5 linked regions of the Homo sapiens genome follow. The protein of the gene in region 3 purifies or fractionates together with the protein of the main gene of each other region. This does not show direct contact. Each region holds a gene or a part of one and is shown on either strand. Other genes may lie near its edges. The genes, in order: RIC8B, WARS1, CEP41, URM1 and HIP1R.

What was found.
Region 1: the proteins of CEP41 (region 3) and RIC8B purify together in Homo sapiens (affinity purification with mass spectrometry; one large-scale study listed by BioGRID and IntAct). This does not show direct contact.
Region 2: the proteins of CEP41 (region 3) and WARS1 fractionate together in Homo sapiens (co-fractionation; one large-scale study listed by BioGRID). This does not show direct contact.
Region 4: the proteins of CEP41 (region 3) and URM1 purify together in Homo sapiens (affinity purification with mass spectrometry; one large-scale study listed by BioGRID and IntAct). This does not show direct contact.
Region 5: the proteins of CEP41 (region 3) and HIP1R fractionate together in Homo sapiens (co-fractionation; one large-scale study listed by BioGRID). This does not show direct contact.

What each region holds. Positions count from the first base shown.
Region 1 is NC_000012.12:106,840,287-106,844,537, forward strand, and holds part of RIC8B (chaperone Ric-8B), read left to right. Parts: intron 1-2,302; coding exon 2,303-2,531; intron 2,532-3,565; coding exon 3,566-3,661; intron 3,662-4,251.
Region 2 is NC_000014.9:100,357,597-100,361,847, forward strand, and holds part of WARS1 (tryptophan--tRNA ligase, cytoplasmic), read right to left. Parts: coding exon 4,112-4,251; intron 3,067-4,111; coding exon 2,958-3,066; intron 1-2,957. UniProt on the Homo sapiens protein: Catalyzes the attachment of tryptophan to tRNA(Trp) in a two-step reaction: tryptophan is first activated by ATP to form Trp-AMP and then transferred to the acceptor end of the tRNA(Trp).
Region 3 is NC_000007.14:130,409,574-130,413,824, forward strand, and holds part of CEP41 (centrosomal protein of 41 kDa), read right to left. Parts: intron 2,668-4,251; coding exon 2,606-2,667; intron 1,619-2,605; coding exon 1,549-1,618; intron 1-1,548. UniProt on the Homo sapiens protein: Required during ciliogenesis for tubulin glutamylation in cilium. Probably acts by participating in the transport of TTLL6, a tubulin polyglutamylase, between the basal body and the cilium.
Region 4 is NC_000009.12:128,373,623-128,377,873, forward strand, and holds part of URM1 (ubiquitin-related modifier 1), read left to right. Parts: intron 1-4,251. UniProt on the Homo sapiens protein: Acts as a sulfur carrier required for 2-thiolation of mcm(5)S(2)U at tRNA wobble positions of cytosolic tRNA(Lys), tRNA(Glu) and tRNA(Gln). Serves as sulfur donor in tRNA 2-thiolation reaction by being thiocarboxylated (-COSH) at its C-terminus by MOCS3.
Region 5 is NC_000012.12:122,845,143-122,849,393, reverse strand, and holds part of HIP1R (huntingtin-interacting protein 1-related protein), read right to left. Parts: intron 1,364-4,251; coding exon 1,300-1,363; intron 929-1,299; coding exon 786-928; intron 599-785; coding exon 542-598; intron 1-541. UniProt on the Homo sapiens protein: Component of clathrin-coated pits and vesicles, that may link the endocytic machinery to the actin cytoskeleton. Binds 3-phosphoinositides (via ENTH domain).

The sequences.
Region 1 (4,251 bases), on a different chromosome or scaffold from region 3:
GCATTAAGGAGTTCTAAATAGGTCTTGCTTTTGAATCTGCATATCAGGAGGGGGCTGGGAGCATGAGCGGGAGGATGTCATGTCTCAGTGATTAATGATCTCTAGGAAGCTGAAAAGGGGAGTGTAATATACACAGTATTTCTACCCCCTGGAGTAGGAATGCAAACACTATTGTGCAGATCTGTGCATAGTCACTGACTTCCTGGTAGCTGGAGAATTTCATACACTCTTCTACCACAAATAAAACTGTCAGAGAAGTGACAGAGCTCAAAAAGCTGGCCTTCCTTACTTAAAAAGAATAGCTCAAACACAGTGAGCCAGAAAAATTAATTTTGTAGTTGTTTGGAAACCAAGTTGTTAAATAAGAAATAAGAAAATGGGAACTTTTCTTGAAAAGCCTAAAACCTCCAAATATTTGTTGAATCAAACTCTACATTTGGTTTCTTAAATTTACTGAATTCCTGGAAACTGCTTACTTTAAACGAATTTAAAGGGGAAACATTCCTTTGTAATGAAATGACCCATCTGAAACTTTTCAATCTGGTCTCTGGTAGGTTCAGAGCATCATACGGTCAGTGTATTTAAGAGCCTATTGCCTGATGTTTAGGGAAAAAATCATAACATTTCAGAATGGCTTGTATACAGTTTTTGAAAATAATTCTAAGGTAGAGTTATTTCCCCCCTTTTATTCTCAATGAATCTATGGTATTATTTAGTAACAATTTCTAAGTGCTTAAGATAGAAGCAAAACGTTCTGAACTATAGATAAGATAAACTACAGATATTTGCAAAAAAAAGTTTTAAGAGAAAGTTTTGGGGAAAGCTTATATTTCAGCCACCTTTGATTATTTACCAATAACCAAATATAGAGATTTTGTGCATAACACCAGTAGCAGCAGCAGTATTTGGTTTTAGTGAGGGCAATCAAATAACTTGTATTTTACTAGGAACCATTTATTCATATGACTTGTTAAATTATTTTTTGCTCTTGATTCATTTTTTTGATGCCCTATACATTACCACTTTCTGTTCTGCATTGTCTAACTTTTCAACTGACTTGTTACTGGTTTTTATTTTTCCATAATATAAAAAGAAAGGAAATATTCATTCTTGGGGAAGTGGAGCACAATTCAGGGTAGAGGAAAGAAAAATTTTTGTATTTCTATTTCTTTGTTTTTCTGTTTGTTTTGCTTTATTTTTTAGGGTGTCACTATAATCTAAAGTAGAAGGAGCTACTGGTCTAAATTAAGATAGTATCAGATAGATTAAGCTCTAAATTTGGTTTCCAAGTGGTTGGACTTTTAAATTGCATTTGCAGGAGTTTATTTTTAGTCAGGATGTGGTTATTTTTAGATCTGCTTCTCTGTCACTAGGAAATAAAATGCCTGTCTTTCCATTGTTGATCAGGAAGTTCTAAGGCACAGGCATATAAGAGCCAGTTAGCCCAGAACACCACCACTCCTTTTAGATGAAAGAATATGAAATAACTCATGGAAGAAAATATGTTTGTTGAGAACATATCTAATTTTGAAATTGTTAGTGTCATTTTAATCTTTTGTACACTGAACAACAGAACAAGGTTTTTAGGGAATGCCAAAAATATAAGGTTTGGGTTCCCCCTACTGGTGTGCATCCCAGTCTCGTGTATTCATTAATACACAGCTGAAAGGCCTAGGGGCTAGAGATTAGAAATAGCTATATTAACTTCATTTAGAGACCTGATGATAAGAAAGAGAGAAAAAACTCCATTTCCCTTTTTCTGCATATGTCTTACAAAAATTGGGATGATTTTTAAATTGTATTTTCTACATTTAGAAAGAATAAAACTTAATTCTACCATATTTGGTTTATTGTTGTTGCTACTGATAAGCTGCTTATTTTCAGTGTTTCTCAAATGCTTTATGTTGTAATCTAAGGAATAATAAAACACCAGTGGATCCACAAAAGGATTTAAAATCCCAGGGAAGAAATGCAAAGCTAGCATTGTTGCCATAATAAAATTAAGGAGCTGGCATTAAAGCTCACTAATTCCTATTTTAGCATTTCAGAAAGTGACATGACATCATGTGATTGTGTCTGTCTATTCAACATTTGTTTTTTTTCTAATTTGTACAACATATATTTGAAACAGTTTTTTATTTCCTATCTCATAGTAAGTGTCAAGTGTCCATAATGGCTCATTTTTGGAAAAGAAATATTTTAATTGACTCTTAAAAGTCACTTTTGAACTTCTTATTATGTTTGCATTTTAAAGGACTATTCAATCAAGTTAAAATATTGTATTTTTTTAATTGCTTTTCAGCAATGCAGTCAACCTTTTAAGCAATGTTCCAGTCTCTTGTTTGGATGTTCTCATTTGTCCGTTAACCCATGAAGAAACAGCCCAAGAGGCAACGACTCTAGATGAACTGCCCAGTAATAAAACAGCTGAGAAAGAAACAGTTTTGAAAAACAATACCATGGTATACAATGGTATGAATATGGAGGCCATTCATGTTTTACTGAATTTTATGGAGAAGAGAATAGACAAGGTAAGGCTGATAAAATGGAAGCCCTGGGAAGATGCTTCCAAAGAATGTAAATGTGCCATACATACAGACACACATCACAGAGCATGATTTTTAAATCTAAGCTTTTTTTCTGACTGATGTGCTGCATAATTGTTTTTACTTTGGAAAGCAGTTTATTACAATATATGATAAATTGCTGAAGCCATGTTAATTTATTTGTTTAATGCTGAAAATTATGTTCATGCAACACCAAAATTATGACTAGTGCTTGAAAACAAAGGAAAAAGTAATTACTGTTCCATTTTGTTACTTTGTGAGTCCTAGAAATAAAAAATATCCCCCCAAAAACTTGCTAAATACTCTTCATAATACCTAAAAGACATCTTCCCAAAAAAAAGAAAAAAGAAGACCTTGTCAATTTCCCATTTGTTGTGAGCTGTTTATACATTCTCTGGTCTATCACTCACTTTGTCAGGTATCTGTATTAAAAGGCAGCAAGGTAGCATAGTCCAGTCACCAAAATTTTGCTTCATTCAAGCCCTTTGGCTAAGCCCATGGGAATCCTAGAAAATGTAGGAACATCCAGGAAGGACCAAAAAAGGCAATAGTAAACATGAAGATGATAAAATGGAAATGTTTTTAGGAAAAGAATTTTTAAAATAGTTTGTAAGCTTAGGTAACATAAGATGTCCCCACCTCGTGGATCACGAGGTCAGGAGATCGAGACCATCCTGGCTAACATGGTGAAACCCCATCTCTACTAAAAGTACAAAAAATTAGCCAGGTGTGGTGGTGGGCACCTGTAGTCCCAGCTACTCAGGAGGCTGAGGCAGGAGAATGGCGTGAACCCGGGAGGTGGAGCTTGCAGTGAGCCGAGATTGCGCCGCTGCACTCCAGCCTGGGCAACAGAGGGAGACTCCCTCTCCCAAAAAAAAAAAAAAAAAAAAAGTCCCCACCTCAAAAACAAATTGATATCCTCAGTTACATGAAGGAAAGTAATACTGTTAGAAACAAAACTAACGTATTTCAAAAACATATGGTTTTTTTTTTTATAGGGAAGCAGCTATAGAGAGGGTCTAACTCCAGTTCTCAGCTTATTAACCGAATGTTCCCGAGCCCATCGAAACATCCGAAAATTTCTCAAAGATCAGGTAACTGCTTAATGCATATTACATTGCAAAGTTAGTCTTTTTATGTGCATTTTAAACATAGAATTAATTGAATTTTCTCACAATGATTTTGTTTCAGATAATCAGAAACTCAGTCTTAATCTTTGAAATCTTCTTAATCAAGAAGTGTGTATTTTTTGAGTCATTCATTCAGCAAATGCTACCGAGATCTGCTGTGTGTGCTGTGTTTTGGGCATTGAACAACAGATGAAGTCTTTCCCCTTGGGAAGTTTATTTTGTAGAGAGGGGGACAAAAAGTAAACAAATTTAAAATATAATGGCAGGTGGTGATAAGCATTCTGAAGAAAGGTAAAGCATTTTAAGAGAGAGGAGACACTTTAAGGGAACAAGGGAGGACCTCTCTGAGATGACATTTGAACAGAAAGGTGGAAAAGTAAGAGTATCTCTGAGAATGATTGGAAAGGAATGTCCCTGAGAGAACAAGTTCACAATCCCTGAGACAAGAGGATGCTTTGGTACACTTAAGGAAAAGCAAGAAGGCCTGTGTGACTAGGCCACAATATGCAAGGGGGAGAGTGGTAGATAAAGAGAGGTAACAAGAGCCAGATACA
Region 2 (4,251 bases), on a different chromosome or scaffold from region 3:
GATTACAGGCGCCCACCACCATGCCTGCCCAATTTTGTATTTTTAGTAGAGATGTGGTTTCACCATGTTGGTCAGGCTGGTCTCGAACTCCTGACCTCAAGTGATCCACCCGCCTCGGCCTCCCAAAGTGTTGGGATTACAGGTGTAAGCCACCGTGCCCGGCCATCAGTTGTATTTCTATATAGTAGCAATGAACAATCAAAATGAGATTAAGAAAATGCCATTTAGAATAGCATTAAAAAGATAAAATTCTAATGAATAAATCTAAGCAAAGAAGTGCAAAACCTATACACTGAAAATTACAAAACATCAATGAAAGAAATCAAAGAAGTGAAAAGACATCCCATGTTCATGGATTAGATGAATTAATATTTTAAGATGGCAATACTCCACAAATGAATCTACAGATTCAGTGCAATCCCTATCAAAATCCTAGCTGCTGCTTTTGCAGAAATGGAAAAGCTGAAATTCATATGGAAATGCAAGGGGCCCAGAATACCTAAACAATCTTGAAAAAGAACCATGTTTGAGTACTCACATTTTCTTATTTTTTTTTGAGACGGAGTCTCACTGCCACCCAGGCTGGAGTGCAGTGGCGCGATCTCGGCTCACTGCAAGCTCCGCCTCCCGGGTTCATGCCATTCTCCTGCCTCAGCCTCCCGAGTAGCTGGGACTACAGGCGCCCATCACCACACCTGGCTAATTTTTTGTATTTTTAGTAGAGATGGGGTTTCACCGTGTTAGCCAGGATGGTCTCAATCTCCTGACCTCGTGATCCGCCTGCCTTGGCCTCCCAAAGTGCTGGGATTACAGACATGAGCCACTGCGCCCAGCCAAGAATAGTCTTTTCAAAAAACAGTGCTGGGACAATTGGATACCCACAAGCAAAAGAATGAAGTTGGAGCTGTACCTCACAAATATACAAAAATTAACTCAAAAAGGATCAGAAACTGAAATGTAAGAGCTAAAACCACAAAACTCTGAGAAGAAACCATAGGTGTAAATCTTCACAACCTTCGATTAGTCAGTGGTTTCTCAGATATGACACCAAAAACACAATCAATCAAAGATAAAATAAACTGGACTTCATCAAAATTAAAAACTTTCATACTTCAAAGGACTATCAGTAGAGTGAAGAGACAACCTATATAATGGGAGCAAATATTTGCAAGTAATATTTGAATAAGAAACTAGTATCCAGAATATAGAAAGAACTATTATAACTAACAATAAAAAGACAACCCAATTAAAAAGTAGGCAAAGGATCTGAATAGACATTTCTCTAAAGATATAAAAATTGTTAATAAGCACATGAAAAGATTCTCAACATCCTTGTCATTAGGGAAATACAATCAAAACCACAATGAAATACTACTTCACACCTATTAGGATGGCTATAAAACACAACAACATGGAAAATAACAAGAGTGGGTGAAGATGTGGAGAAATGGGAAGCTTCCTATGTTGCTGGTGGGAAAGTAAAATGATACAGTTGCTGTAGAAAAGTCTGTCAGTTCCTCAAAGAGTTAAACATGGAATTACTATATAAGCCATTAATTCTATTTCGAGGTATATGCCCAAGAGAATTGAAAACATATATCCACCCAAAAACTTGTATACAAATGGTCAGAGCAGCATTGTTGATAACCAAAAAGTGAAAATAACTCAAACGTCCATCAACTAATGAATGAATAAACAAAATGTGAGGTATATCCATTCAATGGAATATTATTTGGCAATAAAAAGGAATCCAGTATGGATACATGCTACAACATGGAGGAACCTTGAAAATGTTATGCCAAGTAAAAGAAGCCAGACACAAAAGGCCACATGTTACATGATCCCATTTATATAAAATGCCTAAATCTAGATATAGAGAAAGCAGACTAATGGTTGCCAGTGGGGAGGGAGAAATGGGGGATGACTGTTAACCCATTTATGCCTACCTACTGTTCCAAAATTGGAATGCTAAACTTGTGGGAGTTATTGATATCTTACTGCTCAAGGTGATTGCCAAGGTCTGATTTTTCACAAAAAATTTTTACAACTTCTGGCATAAATGGGTTAATGGGTAGAAGTTTCCTTTTGGGGTGATGAAATGTTTTGGAATTAGATAGTCTTGATGGTCTCACAACCTTGTGAATATACTAAAACCCACTTAACTGTACATTTAAAAAAATAAGTTTTATAGTATGTGAATTAAGGAAAATTTTTTATTATATTCCACCCAGAAAGTGGGTTGAGCAAGGCCTGGAGTTCTTTGCAGGTAGAATTTGAAGTGTTTGGGCAGACTGCTGGGCTCTGTCCTGGGGTTGTTCTCCTGTAAGCGTGAAGTGCCAGTAGAACAGAACAACCCTACATCAGATCATAAATTCCATGGACACAGCTTCAAAAAGGGGGCTGCCTCAGCCCAGATAACTGTAGGTTGGGAGAGGCAGAAACTCTTTTGGAACCTGCCCATATCTTGACGTTATCTGCGTGGAATTTACGGCCTAAGGTACAGATAATCTGTTCCATGCATTCTCTGTTGGTTTGTCTGTTGGTATTGTTTATGAGCAAGTCAATACAATAGGAGGAAGAGGGTTTGGAATTTCAGGAAGCCTACTGTTTGTCATGTGGGAAATGCTGATCTTGGACATATTATTCTCTTTTGTTTTCATGACATTTTATAATTTCTTTACAGCCTGTAATCTGGGAAGAATCTCACCTGCTATTAATATGATTCCCACCTTGTGAGGTGGGCAGTCTACAAATGAAAAAACTAAGAGCCTGAGGGTGATGGACAAGCATGATCCCACAGTGGGTTACTGACAGGACAGAGGATGGATCTCAGTCTTACCACAGCTGGCCATCACTTTTCCCACAGTACCAGGTGGCTTATGAAGAGAGTGTCTTACGATTTTTTTGAACTAAAAGAAGAGGACAGGTGAGAAGGCCTGTGGTGAAGAGCCCCTGACCTGTGTGAGAAGAAGATGCCTCTGCGCAGGAAGTGGTGTGGTCTTTGGCCGGTGGCTCTCTCTATTCGGTTTATTAGCTCTTTGTCAATTTTACTACTTCCAAACCGAACTGGAAAAAAAGAAAAGATGACTTTCTTAGGTGGCAGGAGGTTTAGTGATCAGATATTACTGAAATGAAGATGAAAAGTGAGTGATCCATGCACAATCTTAATGAACACAAACCTCTTTAGGCCTTCTGCTAAAGGTCCTTACCCCCAACATGAAGTAAAAGGTCTTTGGATTAAAACAACAGCTGAGATCAACACAACCAACAAAACAGGAAATAAATTACAACACAAAATGCTGTTTTGCCTGAGACTGGGTTCTGATGGGAAACATATTCAGAATGCAGTCCAGCTAGCAACTTTTGACAACAAAATATAAACATATACATATATAAATAGGTATATATATATATATTTGTTTATTAAGGTAAAATTTATATTCATTGACAACCATGATTTCTCACATTCTTTATTTGTTGAACTGAATTAATGTCGGTCTTCAAGTGAATTTTCCCTCATTGATAGTCTATACTGAAATCATGGAAAATGGCTTTGACTTAGATGAAAACATTTCAGTTCTGTTTCTTCTCTGATAATTAGCAATGATCTCAGAGTAAAGACTTCAATGGAATGGCAACAGTCTTTCCTGAGCAGGAAGGCCCTCAAGGAAGGGCATGACAGTAAGAACTTGCCCGATGTGAGAAGTCACTGCTCTTAAGCTGACTTCCAGCCTTCTAGGTCCATAGTCAGTATCACTGGAGGTGAAACCTAAGTAATCTATGATTGACTTGTAGCCACTAAATGTTATAAATGGCCATTTCAATAGACCTTTCCCAAGTTCTGAAGTGCTCAAAAAAAGGGAAAACCTTCTATTAAGCTGTCTACTATAGATCATTATTTTGAAATATATTTTATATTGTTATTTTATTTTAAAATAATCCTTTGGGAATATAATGCACAACCAAAAGATTTTAGTATCCATTTTTTCTTGGCATTGAAGCTTCACTGAATTTATGATTAATTCAAAATTTAAAAACATCAATGGAATCAACTCAATGGGACCACTTCTAAAAGTTGCAGCTTTTTCTGGGAAGAAAGCAGAGGACGTACCAATGAGCTTATCGTAGTCTATGCCTTTTGCACTGCTTGTCTGTACTGTCCATGGGTCCACAAAATCCTCTTCAGCTTCTGTGGCATCTGGGCCATGATTACTGGTAGGTGCTGGGTTCCCTGGAGGACAGTCAGCCTTG
Region 3 (4,251 bases):
ACAAACCCAGTGTTCAGACTTCCTGAGAAACTTGTCTTGAAATCAGAAGTCAAATTCCTGACCTACATCAACCTTAACAAACACATTCCTCTTCAATAAACAGCCACACACTGATTGCTGGGTACTTCAGGATAAAATAAAGACCTTAACTCTCTGTATTCTTTTCATGAGAGTACAACTAGGAGGTTTTATTTTCAACTTGGTATTTAAGAAAGGAGAAATGGAGCCTACCTGTCTTTCTAGCCTTATCTCCTACCCAGCGCCTACTCGTCCCTTAGACCACAGCCAGACTGGATGACTCGATTCCCCAAACATGCCTGGTGTGCTGTCCTCTCCATGCCTTTCACAGGCTGCTCCTCAGCCTGCAACAGCCTCATCTTTAACTTGTACCTGTTGAGATTCTACCCCACTTCAAGGCCCAGTTCCAGTGCCTTGAGGAAGCCTACCTCGGTCTTCTTTTTTTTTTTTTTGAGACAGAGTCTTGCTGTGTTGCCCAGGCTGGAGTGCAATGGCGTAGTCTCAGCTCACTGCAACCTCCGCCTCCTGGGTTCAAGCAATTCTCCTGCCTCAGCCTCCTGAGTAGCTGGGATTACAGGTGCACACCACCGTGCCTGGCTAATTTTTCTATTTTTTTTAGTAGAGACAGGGTTTCACCATGTTGGACAGGCTGGTCTTGAACTCCTGACCTCGTGATCTGCCCGCCTTGGCCTCCCAAAGTGCTGGGATTATGGGGGTGAGGCACTGGGCGTGAGGCACCGTGCCTGGCCGCCTACCTTGGTCTTCTAACTGGAAGTGTCTTTCCTTCCTTGGAACTCTCCCACAACATCCTGCATCTTTCCTGAAGGTACTTTTCAGTCCCTTAAGGGTACAATGAAGGCAGCAAGAAGACACTGGATGCTACTGGGCACACTTAGATTTGTAACTCAGGTCCCTTCCTTATTAGCTGTATCACTTTGAGGAGGCAGCTTAACCTCTGCAGCTTGGGCCTCTCATCTGTAAAGTGTACCTTCCTTCCAGAGTTTTTAAGAAGCTTAAGTAAGAAAATTCATGTGAATTCACCTTGCAATATACAGCCAACAAACGATGGTTTCCTTCCATTCCTCCATTTTAAAATTCTGCCACCTTAGTAATTTTGTGGTACTGTTATCATTCAGCCCACCCAACACACATACATGTGTGCACATGCACACATGTGACTGTCAATTTCATGTAAGCAGAGCTGTGTTTTGTTCACCTCTGCAGTCTCATAGTACTTAATGTGTAGGTACAAAGAATGCTAAAAATATTTGTTGAAAAAAGTAATTAGTATATTAAACACATCTAAAACATTTAAAACTGTAAGTGTTAGAGTCAGAAAACCAGATGGCTTTTTAAAATAAGAATTAACAACTAAAGTATCAGGTAGCATTTCCCTGAGAGTAACAATCTAATTACAAATAGATACATCAAAGTCCCAGTCCCTGGGAACAGACAGCAAATGTGTACAGGGTGAGTGTTTCAGTCAAATGGTCAGCCTGTTATTTTCCCCACACCCTCAATTCTCATTACCTTCCAGCCTTTGAATCTCCTCAGCTGTCACTTCCAGTGTTTGATCAGAGAGGGAAGCAACTTGGATGATCTGATAGAAAAAAGAATGAAATGTGTGGATGTTTGTTTGTTTTTAAACAGACGCAATTTTGTCTTTTACAAAAGACGAGGGAACAACAAACATCAAAGATCTGTTGTTTTAAGAAGCTGTCAGTGTCCTCAACTGAACGCTGAATCTCAGGCCTCCTTCCTTTTGTGTTGGTAATATACTGCAGATGATCATTTCAGAAGAAAAGCACACTTAGAACACTACATAAACTTAGAATGCTAAGAGGAAAATTTAGGACAAGAAACATGAATAAGAGTTTAAAACCACATCTGTATATATCGTGGTCCAAGCACTACACATTATTTCTTGAAAATGCAATACTGACCTAGCATAACATAGAATGGTATCAGCAATTATCCACGCAATGAAGAAGTAAATGTAATAACAAATACACTGATTACAGTGTTTTATACTTCTATACAGTATTCATTTTTAAAGCACTTTTCACAACTTAGCTCACAAGACCCAAGATTCAACTTGAGTTATGCCAGTGGAACTCTTGGAACTGGAAAGACACCTTCTCCATAATTTTCAAATAAAAGAAGAAAGTGACTTGCCCAAAATAACAAAACAGCTCTGGCAGGATGATTTGGAAAAGATCAGTCCAAGAAAAGGGGAAATCACTTGGTTTCCAGAGAAAAACGTTGAAACAATCCAGGATCCAGAATTTTAGATTCTAAATATTAAGTTAAATGTATAAGGAAAAAAACCCCTAACCACAAGTTTAATGAATTAAAAGTAGGGCAAACATTTACTTTATAGAATTCTTATCAAAGAAGAGAGAAACATTTCTCACCATCTTCATGTGAACACACACACCACATACCAATTAATCTTCCCATAGCTGAACGACATACAAAGAATCAGAAGAAACTCCTCTGCAAACTTTCCCTAGAGTTGAATTTAGAAATACATAAAGTGGCACAAATTAGACAGACTTTACTCCAGTGGAAAAATCAAGAAACTTACCAGCTGGGCAAAAGTTGTAACTTTTAGTCTCTTGAAAAGCTCATCTTTTTTGTATCTATAATCTGAAAAATATGGTAAGACAAGTATTTATCTATTTTGCTTTTTTAGAGCTATTCTTTCTAGTTGTCAAGTGACGTGGTCTTTCAAGTTATTTATATGCTTTTACATCTATTATCTCATTTGAGCCTCATGATATCATCAAAATTAGGTGTGGCAGGTAGTAGTATCATCTGTTCAGTTTGTTTCCCTTTGCTTTGTCATTAGGAAGCTTAAAGTTGAATTTATAAGCTACCTTTGGTCTAGTGACTACCCCTTGCCTTTATTTTATTAGTCTACCATTTTCCTTTAACTAAGCTGTCTCTACTTCGACCACATTGTACTCCACGCATTTTTGTAAGCCGCCTCAAATCCTTTTCAGAGTAAAGCAGGGAAGAAATGTCCGTGTTTTACAAATGAGGACAGAGACTCAGAGAGGCTGAGCTGCCCCAGCTCAAACAGCTGGTGAGACGTTCATGCCCCACTATTCTGACTCCAGCTTAAAAAGAAAGCAATATTATTCCTGCCATTACACACTATGCTGAAGCCACAGGACAACATTTCTAAGTGTATGCTGGGCACACAGCTGTGATTGGTTCTGATCATCTCTCAGCTTCTCTCCAACTTCACTCCAATAAAAATTAACCTACTTAGTTTCGCAAGATGAAAAAGTTCTGCAGTTCTGTTGTACAACAGTATGAAAATACTTAATGCCACTGACCTGTACACTTAAAAACCATTACGATGGTAGGTGTTATGTGTTCTTGTTTTTGTTGTTTACTACCATTTTATTTTATTTATTTTTATTTCTCTGTCGCCCAGGCTGGAGTGCAGTGGTGTGATCTCGGCTCTCTGCCACCTCCGCCTCTCAGGTTCGAGGGATTCTCCTGCTTCAGCCTCCCGAGTAGCTGGGATTACAGTTGCCCACCACCAGGCCTGGCTAATTTGTGTATTTTAGTAGAGACGGGGTTTCACCATGTTGGCCAGGCTGGTTTCGAGCTCCTGGCCTCAAGTGATCCACCCACCTCAACCTCCCAAAGTGCTGGGATTACAGGCGTGAGCCAAAGCGTCCGGCCCCACCATTTAAAAAAATAAAATAAAACCAACTTAGGCCAGGTTTGGTGGCTCATGCCTGTAATCCCAACACTCCAATTAATAATACAACTAATAATACAAAATACAACTAATAATACAAATCCCAACTAATAATACAAAAATTAGTTGGGCATGGTGGTGCACACCTGTAATCCCAACTACTCCAGAGGCTGAGGCATGAGAATCAATTGAACCTGGGAGGTGGAGATTGCAGTGAGCCAAGATTGCACTACCACATTCCAGCCTGGGTGAGAGTGAAACTGTGTCACAAAAAAAAAAACAAAAAAAAAACTTAAAACATCAATATTTATTCAGTGCTGTCTTGACAATTCTGAGCTATAACTCACATATAGGTACTTCTGCACTTGTGTTCATAATTCTTCCCATCACATTAAACAGTTATTAAAAACTAAGCCAGTTGCACTTTATCTATTATCTGTTCCATAGATACGTGTTAAAGGTTAGCTTCCTTAAACTGTTTTGAAGATGACAGTCAAATTCTGAATGGTTTTCAG
Region 4 (4,251 bases), on a different chromosome or scaffold from region 3:
GCAGGATTCAAAGTATGTAATATAGTTGTGTTTTGTGTCCCTGTGGTCCATGTTGTAAAGGCCCAGATATGGAGTTCTCTCCGTCCCACCCCTCTTCCTCCTTCCCAAGTTGGGGAGGTATTGGCAAAAGGAGGGAATGTCATTGAGGTCAGAGAAGAACTGGGAGAAATGGGCATTTCCTTTCCTTTAGCAGATATTTGTTGAGTGTCTACCATGTGCCAGGCCCTGTTTTAGGCAGAGCTTGCAGCCCAGCAGGTGGAGAGGAAGTAAATAAACAAAATATATATATACGTGTATATGTATGTGTATATACAGAAGATTAAAAGATGAAGATACATCAGAAAAGGTGAAGGTGGTTTTGAGAATATCTATACCTGTCACTGGTATCTACAAACACATCCACCAAGAATTGGGGGGGTTGAAGGAAGATGGAGATATGTCAGTTGAGTTTGAATAGCAGATCTTATAAGACATAAGAGAGTCTGGCCTTGGTCTCTCCTGGGCTAGAACAGGCCCCTTGTCTGCCTCCCTGAATCACTCTTGAGGCTGGGCATGCACCTTCCCCCACTCCAGATGTGCTGACAGCAGAAATGCCAACCCCTCCCTTGAGGGCCAGTGAATTCAGCAGTGACAGGTCACTCTCTGAGCGAGACTGGTTCTCCCTTCATCCGCTTGTAAAGGGAAAAACAGCCTCGGCCTCTGAGCCTGGCACCACCAGGTTTGGCCAGTCTTGGTTGTTTGCCTAAGTCCCAGTGCCTTCAGTTCCCATCCCTCTTCTCTGACCCCCAACTCCTGAGCCCCTTGCCTGTCACCCTCCCCCACCCCAGCTGCTGCATGTGCCAACCCCCCACCCAGGAGAAAACGAGGCTCTTGGAAGGGAATAAATGGAGGCTCTGTGCAGGCTTGCAGCTGAAATGGCCCTGTGCGCGGCCACAGATGGGCCTCCTCTCCCCCTCCACATTTCTGCATCAACAAAGCGTGACCTTGTTTGGATGACAGTCGCCCCATGTTTTCCCCATGACAATGCTTGCCTTGCCTTTGCCTCCCAGCGGGCTGTCTCAGGACATCTCTGTTCCCTGAAATTGGGAAAGGGTGGTGGGGTGGAAGACATCTCATTCTTCAAAAGTCTGGTGAGGCCTTTTCAGTTAAGATCCACAAGAAGTCTGAGATGGGAATTGGGAGACCCAGAGGGAGAAGCAGCATGGGGCGCTGAAAGAGCCCTGGCGCTCATCTCAGAAGCCTCAGCTTCTGGACTTGGCTCCAATCATCTCTGCAGTCCCCGCCTTCCCTTGGCCAGGTGCTGGGACACAGAAATGAACCAAACTCTGCCCTCAAGAGGCTTTCTGACCTTTGGGAAGTCCTGTTTTTTTCTGACCAGTCTGCTGGTGCTAAGCAGGAATCAGTTAGACTGAAATTATAGTTCAGCCCCTGCCTCTCTAACCTTGGACAAGTTGGTTGCTTAACCTCTCTAGGCTTGAGTCTGCTTTTCTATCAAAGTGAGCAAATAATATCTACCTCCTTCCTTCTTCCCTGGGACTCCCTGAGGATGAAATGAGATGAGGAACATCTTATAAATGGTGAGGCGATGTGAACAGTTGTTCTTAGTTGATGCCAGGCCTCATGGACTCTCTCAGCCTCCAGCACTGTGATGTACCCACCAGGTCAGCAGCAGGTGGCATGGGCAGGAGCATTCAAACCATCATCTGGCCAGAGGAAACCCCTAGATGCACAGGGTCTCCAGAGTGCCTCACAGTGGCTCCCCAACATTTTTCCAGATGGAAAGACTGAAGCTTAAGATTGAGTCAAGGCCAGGCATGGTGGCCCACACCTATAATCCCAGCACTTTGGGAGGCTGAGGCAGAAGGATTGCTTGAGCCCAGGAGTTCAAGACCAGCCTGGGCAATAGAGTGAGACCTCACTATGTTATAAAATATTTTTAAATTATTATTAGTTTTGAGATAGGGTCTCACTGTGTCGCCCAGGCTGCAGTACAGTGGCATGACCTTGGCTAACTGCAGCCTCAACCTCCCAGGTTCAGGTGATCCTCCCACCTCAGCCTCCCAAGTAGCTGGGACTACAGGCGCACACCACCATGCCCACCTAATTTTTGTAGTTTTTGTAGACACAAGGTGTTGCCATGTTGCCCAGGCTGCTCTTGAACTCCTGGACTTAAGCAATCCTCCCTCGCCTCTCAGCCTCCCAAAGTGCTAGAGTTACAGGTGTGAGCCACTGTGTCTGGCCCCCAAAGTATTTTAATAACAAAGAAAAAAGAAGATTGAGTCACACATCTAAGGTCTCAACATAGGGAGAGGTGGAGCCTGGGCTTCACATCGGGGCCGGCAGCTCCAAAGGCTGTGTTCTGCACCTGTGTGGTAAGCTGCCTCTCTAGAAGGCAGAGGAGTAAAAACAAGAGTCGGCAAATTTGGGTACTTGATTTTTTTTTTTTCTTTTTAAATAATTAGAGACAGAGCCAGGCATGATGACTCACAACTCTAATCCCAGCACTTTGGGAGGATTGCTTGAGCCCAGGAGGTCAAGACCAGCCTGGACGACATAGGGAGACCCTGTCTCTACAAAAAATAAAAATAAAATTAGGCAGGTGTGGTGACACGTGCCTGTGGTCCCAGCTACCTGGGGGCTGATGTGGGAGGTTTGCTTGAACCCAGGAGGTTAAGGTTGTATCAAGCTGAGATCACGCTACTGCACTCCAGCCTGGGTGACAGAGTGAGACCTTGTCTCAAAAAATAAATAAATAGGCCAGGCACGGTGGCTCACGCCTGTAATCCCAACACTTCGGGAGGCTGAGGCAGGTGGATCACGAGGTCAGGAGTTCAAGACCAGCCTGGCCACAATGGTGAAACCCTGTCTCTATTAAAAAAAAATACAAAAATTAGCCAGGTGTGGTAGCACGTGCCTGTAATCTCAGCTACTCTGGAAGCTGAGGCAGAGGATTGCCTAAACCCAGGAGGCGAAGGTTGCAGTGAGCCAAGATCGCACTACTGCACTCCAGCCTGGGCGACAGAGCGAGACTCTGTCTCAATAAATAAATTTTTTTAAAAAGTAAAATAAAATAATAAAAATAGGCCAGGCACAGTGACTCATGCTTCTGATTTCAGCACTTTGGGAGGCCAAGGCAGGGAGATTACTTGAGCTCAAGAGTTCGAGACCAGTCTGAGCAACATGGCGAAATCCCATCTCTACAAAAAGTACAAAATTAGCTGAGTGTGATGCCATGCACCTGTAGTCCCAGCTGCTTGGGGGTCTGATGTGGGAGGATTGCTTAAGCCTAGGAGGTCAAGCCTGCAGTGAGCTGTGATTGTGCCACTGAACTCCATGCTGGGTGACAAAGCAAGACCTTGTCTCAAAAATAAATAGATAATAATTTCCCGGGTGCCTAATGATAATAATAATTACATAGAGACAGGGTCTTGCTATGTCACCAAGGCTCTATTTCACTGAGGCTCATCTCAAACTCCTGGCCTCAAGCAGTCATCTCGCCTTGGCCTCCCACAGTGCTAGGATTCCAGGTGTGAGCCACCACACCTAGCCGGTACTTGATTATTAGTAAAAATTATATCCTACCTTGCCACATTAGAAGTCATATTTAGGAATTGGTCACTGGGTCTGGGCAGAGTGGCTTGTGCCTGTAATCCCAGTGCTTTGGGAGGCTGAAGTGGGAGGATTGCTTTAGGCCAGGAGTTTGAGATCAGCCTGGGTAACATAACAAGACTCCATCTCTACAAAAAATTTAAAGATTAACCTGATATGGGCCAGGCGCGGTGGCTCATGACTGTAATTCCAGCACTTTGAGAGGCCAAGGTGGGCGGATCACCTGAGGTCAAGAGTTTGAGACTAGCCTGGCCAACATGGTGAAACCCTCTGTCTAAAAATACAAAACTTAGCCAGATGTGGTGGCTCATGTCTGTAGTCCCAGCTACTCGGGAGGCTGAGGCACGAGAATCACTTGAACCTGGGAGGCGGAGGTTGCTGTGAGCTGAGATCACACCACTGCACTGCAGCCTGGGCAACAGAGTGAGACTAAACAGAGTAAAATAAAATTAAATATAAACATAAATATTAATATAAAAAGTAGCCTGATATGGTGGCATGCACCTGTAGTCCTAGCTACTTGGGAGGTTGAACAGGAAGGTCTCTTGAACCCAGGAGTTCAAGGTTACAGCGAGCTATGATTGCACTGCTGCATTCCAGCATAGGCGACAGAGTAAGAACCTGTCTCTAAGAAAGAAAGGG
Region 5 (4,251 bases), on a different chromosome or scaffold from region 3:
AGGGCCTGCCCTGCTCCTATGTCCCTGCCCAGGCAGACGAGCACCCCACAGTGCTCCAGAGAGAACCAGGCCAAGGCCCTCTGCCCACCAGGGACATCTCTAACTCCTGAGGTCTTGCAGTGCATCCAGATTGCAGGCCCCCCAGGGCTCTCAGGCCTTACTGTGTGTGTGCTCAAAATGCAGACCTCCAGTCCTGATTCTTCAGCAGCAGGTCTGGGGGAGCCCAGGAACCTGCGCCCTGCCACAGGCTCTCTAACCACCGAGGTGCCCGGGCTGTGGTCTTGCCACATTTCCCAACTCGTGAGGACTAAAGGGCCCGGGTGACTTCGACGCTGGAGGGCCCACTGGTTATGCGTGTGGAGCGCCCTGGGCCAGGCCCTCAAAGGCAGGCAGCATCTCCCCGTGCTGCCCCTCCCACTGTCGCCCCTGGGAAAACCCAGCCACCCGCAGGGAACTGCCCACAGGGAGCCACCCTTCGCTCAGCCCCACACGCTCAGGAAAGCCCCGAATGCCAGGCAGGACCTAGAATGGCTGGACCTACCCACAGGTCTCCAATCTCCCGGATGTTGCTGCGGTACCGCTGGCAGTCATGCAGCACCTGCAGCGCAGGGAATACGGGAGTGGGGGAGTGTCCAGGACCGTGTGGCAGGGCCCTGAGACACGCACTCCCCACCCGAGGCGGGAGGAACAGCCCGGAGCTACGGGGACAGGAACAGGGCCAGAGCCCGCATGTCCGCGGGACAGTGCCCCAGCTCCGGGGAGCAGAGGCAGCAGCTGCTACTCACATTGGGGTGCCCGTCTCGAAGGACCTTGTGGAGGACGTGGCAGAACTTCCAGCTGAGAATGGAGCTGCTGGGCAGCGGCAGCCCAATGGCGTAGGACCAGAAGGTGAAAGCCCCCTTCTCGTGGTGTGTGCCCAGAATGATGCCTGCAATGTCAAGGCCAAGTGTGGAAGCAGAGACTGGAGCACGGGGGCTCAGCAAACCCGGCTGAGAGAGGCCAGGGCCGCCGGAAGAGGGCCGGCCCCCAATCACGTGCCCATCAACCCCGGGTCACCAGAGCTCCAGTGTCCAGCCAAGGGGACAGGAGTTAGGGCAAGACAAGGAAATCATTGGGCCCAATGGGGGCGTTTTTGTGATGAGACTGAGATGGGAAGGAGCCAAGCTGCACAGGACCCTCCTCCCCGGGCTCAGTGAGGGAACTTGTGACCCCGGCACAGCTGACCGCAGGCCACCTGCAGCACTACGCTGCTCCCACATCCACACCCAACTCCTGGGTCCAAGAGCCGGCCAAGGATACGCCGGGCGTGCTTCTCCTTCACGGGGGCCTCCTGGGTGTTGATGGCTTTGCTGATGCTGATGGCCTGTGAGGGACAAAGGAGCAGTGTTTAGAGCCCCAGGCAGCCACCCCAGGAGACACCACCCCAAGGGGGAGAAGCACAATACTGAACAGGATTCTGCCTGGGTTCAAGGCCAGTGGAGCGATGGGGGAGACAGGAATCCCCTCAACCTAAGCTTCTGAAGGACTTCCCTGTGCCTGATCGGTGCAGCTGGAACTACAGTGAACACCAAGAGCTCCAGGAGTCAGGGGACAAGGACCAAAGCTGGGCTATGGCTCCGGGAGGCCATCCTGCCCAAAACCTGCACGACTTGACTCTCCTGGCAGATGTGGTGCCCTGAGCCCCAGGTCATGGCCCAGTGTGGTGTCCTCCGGCCCCATCTCCCCTTGGGGAAAAGCAGCTGAGACTGGAGCCCCCGGCTGGGGCCCACCTGGCCTTTGCGGCACCCCATGAAGGGTGCACATCACATTGTCCCCACTCTCCTGGGAGGCATTCCCAGGAAACTTAGGCAAAGCCCAGGGCCTGTGGCCCACTGCCCCATAGGCTGCCCCTCTCCTGGGTGGGGCCTCACCCTGTCAAACTGTGTCAAGCTCCTGCTGCCACCTGCAGCCCAGCCAGGGGCGGAGGAAGGCAGGAGTGGGGTCTGCAGCTGTCACCCGGAGCTGCGCAAGTGGCACCTTCACACTTGACCAAGGCCAGAATCTCAGCATCCCTCCCGCTCCACCTATGGCAGTCTCACCCCTCCCCCCCCGCCCCGGCTACTGCCTCCTTTTCCGAGTAGGCTTCCTGGACGTGACTGTGCTCTCGAGGAGGGCTCACGGCGGTACCATCACTACAACCCGGCCCTGGCTCCGTGGGGCATGGGGTATTTCTCATGCAGGGAACAGGTCTGCTAAACCTCTGTCCCCCACCACCAATGTTTGTGACCTGAGAAGAGCTGTCCAGGCCATGGGCGGGAGGGACAGGGCCTCGACAGATGCAGACACTGAGATGGGACACGCAGCCCCCAGCCTCAGCCAGGGCAGCTGGGCTCCTGAGCCACAGGCTGGCCTAAGCCAGGCAGGCCTTGAAGGGCAGGGAGCCGGCTTGCAGGACAGTGCAGCGCTCCTGCGCCTTCTCCCCAGACACCACTGCACTCTCCCACCCAACACCGGAGCAGAGGACATCCAATTAGGGTCTACTGTGGAATTTCCTCTGTGAGAAAAGCCAGCCCGGGAAGCTGGGGGGCCCTACCTGGTGGGACCTCAGATGGGAGCTAGGGGACTGCGGGGCTGGGCCAGGCAGCCTCTGGGCCGCCCCCGGCCCCTAGCACGATGCTGACCCCCTTTCACACACAGGGCCCATTGTACTGGACCCTCCCAGGCAGGTGTCCTGGGGCTGCCCTGAGCCCTGCTCCCTGTAGTCGGGGAGGAGCTGCGGTCCCATCTCAAGGAACCACGACCTGAGGAAATGCACAGAGGCTCTGGTGGGCCTGATCCTGAGGGCTGCCCAGCCAGTGGCCCCCAGGCCTCAGCTCCTTCCTTGAACAAACTCGTATCCACCAACTGTGAGAAGCCATGGCTGAGAGTGTCATGCCCCCAGAGGCAGAATATTGCTCACGACAGCAGCTATGATGATAAGGATCCTGAGTGCCCAGCCCCAGCCAGGCATGGGCAACTCGCCTCCCAGCAACAGCCCAGGGAAGTGGTGACTAACCCATTTTCCTGGTGAGGAAACTGAGGCACAGAAGGCTTATATACTTGTCTGTACAGCTAATAAGGATAAAGGCAGTGTTCAAAGCCAGGTCTGTCTGATTCCACAACCTGTGTCCTTAGTGACTCTGAACAGCCCCCAGGCAGTTCCTCCCGTGGGGAGGGGCTCCCAGGGCAGGAGGCAGGGGCTGTGACTTTCCCCAGCTCACTGGCAAGCAGCTGTCCTGTCACAAGCCAGGCGTGTCCGTCTCCGGGGTGTGTAACCCCATCCCCAGCTGCCGACACCTGAGCTGCCACCTGGTTCGGAAGATTCCTGGCAAGAAGGGTGGAGGCGAAGTGACTGGTGCAGACCTGGCACCAGAGAGGCTGTAGACACAGAGATGCGGGGGTTTCTCCTGACACTGAGGAAACCCCGGGATGGGGCTGAGATAGGGACCCTAGAAGCAGAGAACACATTCTGGGGGAATGGGCTGCCCTCTCCTCTTTGCGAGGAAAGACACAGTGAGGCCAAGGTGCAGCCACCCGTGTCCCCAGGCCCTAGGCTCCAGATGCCCACTCAGCAGAGCTCCAGCTCCCCGCACCCGGCACCCTCACACCCTCCTGCAGCCGCCCTGTTGAAATCTGCACCTTCTGGATGGATGGTCTCTGAGGGCCGGGCACCCTCAGACAGTGGAGTGTTTCCTTATTTATCACCCTCTCCCCTCACCCAGCAGTCAGCAACACGAGGGGAAGCAGATCGGCCTATAGGTGCTGCTGAACCCCCAGCTCCTCAACAGTGCCTGGCATGCAAATGACTTTCATGGCAGGAGGGAGGCCCCAGGAATGCAGTGTGACGGGGCATGCCTTGGGCACATGGCATGGTCTCCTGTGCGCCTGGGCCTCAGTGCTGCCTGCTCCCCGCGCTGGCGGCAGGGGACAGGATCCGTGGCAGCAGGGCCCTCCCGGGCAGGGTGCCGGCTGGCTCTGGGAACACAGCCCCGTTGTGTCTAGGATGGGCAGATGTGTGCACCAGGCTCAGAGCGCCACACAAGGAGGCACAGTGCTCGCACAGTGGGAGTCTGTGGCTGCTCCGTGGGCCTCGCCTCTGACCAGGCAGTAGCAGCTAAGCCCTGTCCCGGGAGAAGCCCGCCAGGTCCCAGTGATGTCCCACCTACTCCCGTCTGCTGCTGACCCTCCCTTGCGGAAGTGGCTCCAGGGTTCTGAGGGCCGCAGCAGCAGGCA